2 linked regions of the Homo sapiens genome follow. The protein of the gene in region 1 interacts with the protein of each later gene in a biochemical or structural test. Each region holds a gene or a part of one and is shown in the gene's direction. Other genes may lie near its edges.

Region 1 (4,887 bases):
TGTTATTAGGAAGGATACCACACTCAAAGCTAGCAAGCTGGATCAACAAAAACAAATTTTGCCAGGGCGGGAGGCAGAAAATAGAAACCAAGACTAAAAAATAAGTTTTCTATATTCTATGTGCCTATTATTTTTTATATACAACATTAAAGAACATTAATGGGCACCTAATTGCTACCTAATTGTACTTGTTAATGCTGGAATTGGACCAGAAAGACCAGAAAGATTTATTGATTCATTTGGTATTTATTAATTTAATACTCTCTGCTAGACAGAACCTGAGACTGTGCAGTTGTACCACCATTAATCTATAACCTAGATACTCATCATACACTCTTTGTATATGTCAGTAGATGATAGTGACTATTTCTATAATTTAAAGTGACAAAATAGTCTTTAGAAAGTTTGTGTTAGTACACTCAAATCTTTTTTAGAGATTCACAAAATGATATATTTTTCTTGTTTCTCAGGGCTCATCAACATTCCAGCAGTGGCCCTTGGAATATTCTCTGGGGGGATAGTTATGAAAAAATTCAGAATCAGTGTGTGTGGAGCTGCAAAACTCTACTTGGGATCATCTGTCTTTGGTTACCTCCTATTTCTTTCCCTGTTTGCACTGGGCTGTGAAAATTCTGATGTGGCAGGACTAACTGTCTCCTACCAAGGGTATGTTCCCTCATTAAATAGTTTGAGGATATTGGTTTGTTTAATTAAATCAATTATTGGTGGAGTTGCAAAAAAGGAATTTGATTTTTAAACATCATAACTATGGTAAGCAACTTAGTATTTTATTGTGGAATAACTGACAATACCTAGAATCTGTTATTGTCACCAAAATTTATCATCTCCTTTGATTGTAGAGAAATATAAAAATTGCTAAACCCATATTTTACACTAGAGAACCAACCTGATTAATTTAGAAAAACAACATGATAGCAGAAATACAAACCTTGAATAATGCCTCTGTCTATTCTTAATGAAATGATGTACATGTGGTTTAAACTAATCCAACTTCAATTTTCCCATCTTAAAAACAGAAGTAATAACTACCTTTTAAACTTTTGTAAGGTTTAAGCAAGCTAACATACATGAAAGTGAATGCTACTTGCCTGACACAAGCTAAATGTGCCATTCATGGAAACAATTGTTTTCTTCCTCCTTTGAACATCTGAGGAACTGGAGTTACCTCTTTGCAATCCTCCATAGTTGCTGTTGTGCTTGAATCATGTAAAGTTTCAGGAAACAACGCCTGTCCTTCAACCCAGTGTTCCCCATAAAAGTTCTCTTTAGCTGAGTGTCTTGCAATTGGTCAGGAGAATATTTAGTGATGCCTTCAGGCCTCTCATCTTGTATGGGGTGGGTGATTACATTGCTTGGTTTCCAGAGTCTCTCTCAATACAAGGTTGAATCTTGTAGGAACTATATTGCCCTTGCCCATTGAGAGTCTTTCCCATCACTCTACCACTTCACATGAATTTCCAGAGGTAACTTTCTTCATCATTTCACCTATATATGCATTATTTGTTTTCTAAAAAAATTATCGAGTCTCCATCATGTGCCAGGAAGGCCTTCCCAACTGTATCTGCCTGGCCACCTGAAACTCTGCCTGTGGCTCAAAAGCAAACACTCCTGACACTATATTCTGTTTCCTGCCTATTCTGTGGCTTCTTGCTTACAGCCTGCTGTCCATCTCCCGTCCTACTCTTGCTTCCCTGCTTATCTGTCTTGTCTCTATGTTCCAACTTCCATCACCTTTATTAACCTGGTTTCATCTGCTGCTAAATGAGCGCCTGTTATAGTTTTGGCCATCTACAATGTTCAGGAAGATTGGTGAATGCAAAGTTCATAAATTACGGCTTCTGGGAGTTATCACAGCCACATTGTTAGACTCAGCTGAGTGTAGTGCTGCCTTAGTGAAAGTCAGTGATATGGATTAAGAATGTTAGTTGTAACAATGAAATGGAAGATGATTCTGGAGAGAGCAGAAGCCCAGTGCCATCTTTAACTGTCCCAGAAATCCTCACGGTAGAGGGACAGTTGTAGAGGACTTTATAGTTTGTGATTTCCAAAACACCTTAACTTTCATGATCTCATTATATCCTCAAAACACCTTTATGAGTTTAGTTTTGTTATCCTTGTTTAAAAGAAACTGCATGGATCTGGGGTTTGAACACAGGCGTGACTCAAAGTAGAACATTCTTTCTGCATCATAATTTCTAAGCCAAAAGTAAACACAAAGCAGACAACAAAAGCAAACTTTGAGATTCCCATTAAAAGTATTCCTACATAATCAAAGATTAAATATTTTAAACAAATAAAAGGTAACATTTTCATTGAGTGAGTACTAGCCTCTTCAAAGGAGTCACCTTGAAAGACTATAATTGTATTGCAGTAATGCTACTGTTGTTTAAAATATTCTAAGACTCTTATTTTGAATTTCTTTGTATATTTTTGAGAATATTCTTAACAAGGGCAAAGATTTAACCTTTAAGGAAAAGCTCTCATCTTTCAGCATAACTATCTTGAAAGGAAATCTCATTTGGGCATAAACATTCTGGCATATTTGTTAAAACTCGTCTTATAATTAAAATTCTAAATTACAAATCTACTGTCAGCACATCCTTCAGAAAAGATGTATCCCAATGATTCCTGCCCCTGATGATAAATTAAACTTTCAATACTATAAAGTATTTTTCTTTATAAAATATAAAATGTTTCCCATGGGTTTTTCCATGTTGCTTTATTCCAAACGCTGTCTTGACCTGAATATTCAATAGGAAAACTGAAGACAAGTCTTAGATATGATAATGGAAGAAATCTCTCTTCTGCAATAACAAGGACAACTCTGATGTGGACATAAGAATTTACAATCAAGAAACCTGGCAGGGTTCAGTTTCCAGGTTTGTCACTAGCAAGCAGTGTGAATTTGAGCATGTTACCCACCCACGTAGGGGCTGACTTCCTTGATCTGCCAAGTAAGAGGTTGGCATAGATTACTCCAATGTTCCCTCCAGCTCCAACCTTCTATAATCTCAGCCCTACAGTTTCCAGAGTTAAATGATTCTAGACTTTAAAAGGCAGTTTTATACTTTCAGATAATACAAACAGTCTCAGTTAACAATTAAAATTTTATGGAAGAGAATAGGATTAAACATTCCTATAGCACATCTCAGAAGGCCTAGTTCAGTACCCTTTCACACTATTTGGAGACATCTCAGAGGTCTTTGGTTTGTACTTTTGAGGTGACAAAATTCATCATACCAGTTCTACTAGATGAAGTATTACACTGATTAAGAAATTATGGTTGCCATCATTAATGACAATACTTCTCAGAGGCAGAGGCTCAAGTGATTAATTTATTTCTCCAAAATAAAGTACCATTTTTTAATTGACTAACTTACTGGAAATTTTGTTTCTTAGCTTGCTGTGTGACAGGAATTATTCCTGGTTCTGGACATATGGGAGTGAATACAAAAATAGTTCCTGCCTCTCTTGATTGTACAGTTCAGTGTATTTTTTGTTTGTTTAAGCTCCTCAGCTATCTTTATAAAAAATGGGAGGAAAGATATGAGGAATAAGCAAATAAATAAATTTGAAAATAAGGAGCAGAAAAAATGAAGTATGGAGGGCCAATGAATGGCACATATGGTGCAGATAGAAATGACATACCATTGCAAAAGTTCCTTTTGAGAAGAGTAGAGGAATATGAATAGCAAAAAAAAGGATAAAAGCAGAAGGATTAGGCCATTCAGGTGACAGAAAAAAAAGTGAGGGAGAGAGAATACTGGGAGAGATGAAGGATAAATATAAAAGCGAATGGCAGAGAACAAAAAAAAATGAAGGAGAAAAGAAAGAATGCAATCACAATTTTGTGAAATAACTCAAAAAAACCAATTTTGGGGGGGGGTGCAAATTTTGTCTCATTAATGTTTGTAACCATCTCCTATTCTCCCGGAGCTAGCACTTAGTAGGCTTCCAGTAAAATTTTATCAACAAATAAATGGGTAAGTCATTGAACTTACTTGTGAATTTGAGTAAGAAAGGATGCTATAAGATATGAAAGAGCACTATACACTGGGAGGATACACAGGAGAAAGGTTGAATGAACTGGGAATGCACTTGTTGGTTACACACATGCAAGAGGACATGTAACTCCTGCAAACACTGAAAGAGAATTAACTGATAACTGATTGGCTATTTTTCCTTTTACTGGACCATTAGTAATATCCATTCCACTCATACTTAGACAACAATTCTGAATGAAATTTGCACACACACAACACACACACACACCCCACCTGTGATGCATTGAAGTAGTGTCATAAATTGCTCTAAAAGTTTACTTTTCTACCTTGTTAGCTATTTTTATACACCTTTGCACAGAAGTATATTAGAAGATCCTAGAGGCTGTAGACTGAAAGCTATAAGCTAAGAACTGGACATCATGTGAATTTGTAAACCTCTAAAGATAACTTTCAAGAGAAAGCTGTTTATTAGTAAACTCACATTTCATGACCAGAAGCTGCCATTTCTGATGACAACTGTGTTTCTAAAAGGCAAATTTTGTTCATAGTATCATTTATATCACTCAAGAACATTGATTTTTTGAAAATATTCGGGTGCTACCTGCTAAGAGGTAATATTTTATATTGTTATATTTCTTTTCAGAACCAAACCTGTCTCTTATCATGAACGAGCTCTCTTTTCAGATTGCAACTCAAGATGCAAATGTTCAGAGACAAAATGGGAACCCATGTGCGGTGAAAATGGAATCACATATGTATCAGCTTGTCTTGCTGGTTGTCAAACCTCCAACAGGAGTGGAAAAAATATTGTAAGAAATCACCTCTCAAGTATATGGCGATGGTCCTGTTACAATATAAACAA
Region 2 (4,887 bases), on another chromosome or scaffold:
AAGGCAATTCTCCCTGAATAGTGGGCTCATGACTAAATTTTGTTTTGTTTTCTGTGTGTTTTTTGGAGGGGGAGTTAACAGCTTTACTGAGATAAAATTTACATACTGTACAATTCACACATTTAAAGCATACAATTCAATGATGTATTCACAGAGTTGTTGCAACTACCACAGTCAATTTAAGAGTATTTTCATCACTTCAAAAAGAAACCTTGAGCCCATTAGAATTTCCCATTATCTGTTTTCCTCCAGCCCCTTCCTAGCCACAGGCAACTGCTAATCTACTGTCACTATAAATTTGTCTATTCTAAACATTTCATATAAATGGATTCATGCAATGTAAGACCTTTTGTATCTGGCTTTTTTCACTTAATATAATGTTTTTAAAGTTCATTCATGTATCAATACTTCATTCTTTTTTTATGGCTGAATAACATTCCATTGTATAGAGTACCACATTTTGTTTACCCATTTATCGATTAATGGACATTTAGATTGTTTCTACCTTTTCAGCTATTATGAATCATGTTATGAATGTTCATATACAAGTTTTTGTGTGAACATATGTTTTCATTTCTCTTGGGTGTATACCTTGGTATGGAATTGCTGGGTCATAGGGTAGTTCTATGTTTAACTCTACCATGGCAGCTGTACCATTTTACATTCCCAGCAGCAGTGTTCAAGAGTTCCCATTTCTCCACATCCTCACCAGCCCTTGTTATTGTCTGTCTTTTTAATCATAGCACTACTAGTAGGTGTGAAGTGGTATCTCATTGTGGTTTTAATTTGCATTTCTCTAATCATCAGTGAAGTTGAGCATCTTTTCATGTGTTTATTGGCCATTTTTATATCTTTCTTGGAGAAATGTCTGTTCAAATACTTTGTCCATTTTTAAATGTCCATTTTTTGTTATTGAGTTGTAAGAATTCTTTATCTATTTGGATACAAGTCCCTTGTCAGATGCATGATTTGCAAATATTTTTTCCCATTCTGAGTTGTCTTTTCACTTTCTTTTTTTTTGAGACAGAGTTTCGTTCTTGTTGCCCAGGCTGGAGCGCAATGGTGCGGTGTTGGCTCACTGCAACCTCCAGCTCCCAGGTTCGAGTGATTCTCCTGCCTCAACCTCCAAGTAGCTGGGATTACAGGCGCATGCCATCATGCTCGGCTAATTTCCTTCGTATTTTTAGTAGAGATGGGGTTTTACCACGTTGGCCAGGCTGGTCTCGAACTCCTGACCTGGGTGATCCACCTGCCTCGGCCTCCCAAAGTGCTGGGAGGCACCACGCCTGGTCCTTACTTTCTTGATAGCATCCTTTGAGGCATAACATTTTAAAATGTGATAAAGTCCAATGTATCTATTTTTTCTTTTGTCATTTATATTTTTGGTGTCATATCTAAGAAATCATTGTCGAATCCAAGGCCATAAAGATTTACTCCTTTGTTTTCTTTTAAGATATTTATAGTTGTAGCAGTTACATTTGGATCTGTCATCTATTTTGTGTTATTTTCTGTGGATTGTCTGAAGTAGGGGTCCAACTTCATTCTTTGCATGTGGATAGCCAGTTACCCCAGCATCACTGGTTGAAAAGACTATTTTCTCATTTAATTATTTTAACACCCTTGTCTAGAATCAATTGGCAAGAAAAGTAAGGGTTTCTTTCTGGAGTCTCAGTCCCATTCCATTGGTCTACATGTCTATTCTTAGGCCAGCACCACACTGTCTTACTTTGATTACTAGCTTTGTAGTAAGTTTTGAAGTCAGGTTTTTCAAGCTTGTTTTGGCTATTCTGGGTCCTTTACATTTCCATATGAATTTTAGGATCAATCTGCCCATTTGTTTTACTATATTGGCTTTGTTTTGTTTTGCAAATATTTCAGGATTGAATAAGCAGGGGGAAATGGCTCATTTTTCAAAGAGTCAAGAAGTCACTGGGAGAATAAGAGGCAGCTTCCTAGGACTCAAGGCCAAATCATCAGGTCCACAGGCAGTGCCAGCTTTCTAGGATTCAGAACCCTCCCTGGCCCATGGTTGTTATTTCAAGAGAAGCAGCTGCATTCTATTCCCAGTGTCCTTCCAGCCTGGCCGGTTTTGTCATCTATCCCATCTCCTTTATTGCCCACCAGAATGCTGCATTCCAAGCAGGTGGGCTGATGATGAAATGCAGCTGGCCCGTTCATGCTCCACCACACTGCAGCTGTGAGTAGGCAGCAGGGTCACAGTGAGGCTGTTCAACACAGAGTCCCCGGTTCTACTCCCAGAGATTCCGACCTAGGGGGTTTGGAGTGGGGCCCAGGCACTCCATTTTTAACACACAGCCTTTCATGTGGTTTTGATGTATGTTGGCAGACCCCAGATGACATTTGGAGAAATTCCTCACAAAGGCATGGGTTTTGTGTAACTTTAAATATCTGTCCATTGTCTGGCACCTGAGTTCCTGGTAGGGGACCCAAAACATCCTCTGTTTCCTTGCTGACCACAAGTTAATGGGGCTTCTGGCTTCTGACCCGGCAAAGCTGATCCAACCTGGGGGTGACGGACAGCACAGGGGAATCTTTCCTATGTGATCTTCGGGACTGTGACTCTTGCTGAAGACACAGGTGGGCGAGTTCCATCGTTACAGGCCAGGAAAGGAGTTCAGGGGATTTATGACTGCTAAGCAAATGTCACACGTTTTTACTCCATTAGAGATTTACTTAAGTTCTTTCCAGATGCAGATATTTATTAGGTAGATTGTGGTTCTTTGTGGCAAAAATTTTCCTTCTGTAATTTCTCAAATAGCCAAATGCTTCCAGGATGAACCGTGTGGGTGCCTGGAGGAGGGGAAACTGGAAGCAGCAGACAGGTCTATAGGATGGGTGTGTGTCAGGGAGTGGGGAAGGTGGGGTTGAAGATCCGGGGGCAGTTACGGGATAGGGCTTCTGAGTATGAAAGTAGCCCTGCAAGAATATTCTATATAGAATATAGAATTGAGAAGTGTCTCCCAATTTAATCGAATTTTTTCCCTCCTGGAGGAGAAAAGGAGAAGAAATTATCTCAGCCTTCTCTTACATTTCTACTATCTTTGAAGTAGCATGCCAAACCCTTTTCCTGGATCTTGAGGACTCGAATCCTGAAATTTCAGATGCTCTCACTAATGTAGGAATTGGGTTTTGACTGGTGACAGAGAAGAGGGGGGAATATTTGGAATGTAGGTCTCTTTGGGAGAGAACAGAACTCACCCTTTCCCTGTGGCAGCATGAAAACACTGAGCCCCTAGAAGCAGAGGGGAGACAGCAACAGAGAACTAAAAAGGGCAGTGAGTGAATGCCAGCGACAAATTTTATTTTGTAATTTTACTTAGAATGGGCCTGCCACTTTCCTGTTTTCCAAAACCAGGCTAATTGTCAGACAACTACTCACTTGAAATAATACTTATTAGAGGTTCTTTTGAATGAAGATGCAAACAGTGCCCACATTGTGTAAGATGGAGTTGTTGCCTATACCTTAATGTTAAGTGTCAGAAAAGCAATCTGATTAAAGAGATCAGCTGCCCTAAGGAAATGGGGAATTTGATTAGAATTGTCCAGTGCTTTCTTAAATAACTCCACTTTGCTGTGCTAGTGTTTGGCTCTGGTGTGAGGAAGTGAATTGAGTTCTGCACTGTGAATTTAGGAGTCTTCAGGAGGGCATTAGAATGATTTCTTCTCCTTCTTCCACCAGTTGATTGCAGAAATGTTTGCTCTGTTTTTATATAGTTATTATTTATAGTTCTTTCTTATAATTATTTAACCTGTGTACTGAATGTCATGCGGCACAATACTACTACTTCTTTGGAAGTACTTCTGAGGCAGGAAGTGTGATATTAGCATATATACACAGTTATAGAATCAGCATCCCCAATGCACTTCCTATCGTGGCTTTGAGTTCATAGGTCCTCAGGAGGTATTCTGTGAGTGAATGACTGAACAGTGATTGTGTCTACTGCCCATTAACTTTCTTTGAAGTTTGACATGATGTTGTCCCTATGCTCTGTTCTTGTGTACACAGTTGGTTATCAGTGGGACCTAGTCATCCACTCATCACTTAAAAGTTAAAGGTTGGAACATTGCTCAAGACAAAGGTTATAGGTTTGTTATAGGAGAACAACCCAGTTGCTCCTTTTACCACCCCTTTCCTTGCAGGATGAGCAGCAGCAAGAGATGGCCGCTTCTGCCGCCTTCATAGACCGGCATTACGGGCACCTGGTAGACGCCGTGCTGGTGAAGGAGGATCTCCAGGGTGCCTACAGCCAGCTCAAAGTGGTCTTAGAGAAGCTGAGCAAGGACACTCACTGGGTACCTGTTAGTTGGGTCAGGTAACTTTATCCCAGAACATCCAAGCTGGACGGGACCTTGAAGATCATCTAGTCCAGACTCCCTCATTTTACCATCAAGGAATCTCAAGCGCAGAGAGGGAGAGAATTCTCCACAAATTCCATCATCGAGAAGAGTATAAGTGGGAAGTCTTGTTTGTTGTTGGTTTTTGTCTGTTGTTTTTCACTGCACCTCTTTGGATCATGATTTGAAAGGGGCATATCAGAAAACAACACATTTCATTTATTAAAGTATCACAGGCAAGCTGACCCTGATTCTTTGTACCAAAGTTAAGTAGCCACTGTCTTTTGTGGGTGGTAGTGGTTAATTTATACAGTACTGATTCGCAGAATGTTTAAGCTTTTTAAACATAGTGACGCTTAGTAGTTTTTTTGGAAGCTAACTTGTTTTATCCAAGGGGATTTTACATGTAACTGAAGTTCCCCTGTCTTCAAGCACTAAAACGTTGATCTTAACCTTTTTTTTGAAGTGCTTGCCTGGTAATAGAAAACGGGTTCTCTGCCTATTTTAAAATAGTGAATATACGTAAATTTT

Evidence for each region. The genes of interacting proteins can lie anywhere in the genome.
Region 2: the proteins of SLCO1C1 (region 1) and MPP3 interact in a test that uses a peptide from one of them, tested with the Homo sapiens proteins (one large-scale study listed by IntAct).

The regions. Positions count from the first base shown.
Region 1 is NC_000012.12:20,732,439-20,737,325, forward strand, and holds part of SLCO1C1 (solute carrier organic anion transporter family member 1C1), read left to right. Parts: intron 1-470; coding exon 471-666; intron 667-4,668; coding exon 4,669-4,834; intron 4,835-4,887. UniProt on the Homo sapiens protein: Mediates the Na(+)-independent high affinity transport of organic anions such as the thyroid hormones L-thyroxine (T4), L-thyroxine sulfate (T4S), and 3,3',5'-triiodo-L-thyronine (reverse T3, rT3) at the plasma membrane.
Region 2 is NC_000017.11:43,801,152-43,806,038, reverse strand, and holds part of MPP3 (MAGUK p55 subfamily member 3), read left to right. Parts: intron 1-4,161; coding exon 4,162-4,338; 3' UTR 4,339-4,887. UniProt on the Homo sapiens protein: Participates in cell spreading through the phosphoinositide-3-kinase (PI3K) pathway by connecting CADM1 to DLG1 and the regulatory subunit of phosphoinositide-3-kinase (PI3K). Stabilizes HTR2C at the plasma membrane and prevents its desensitization.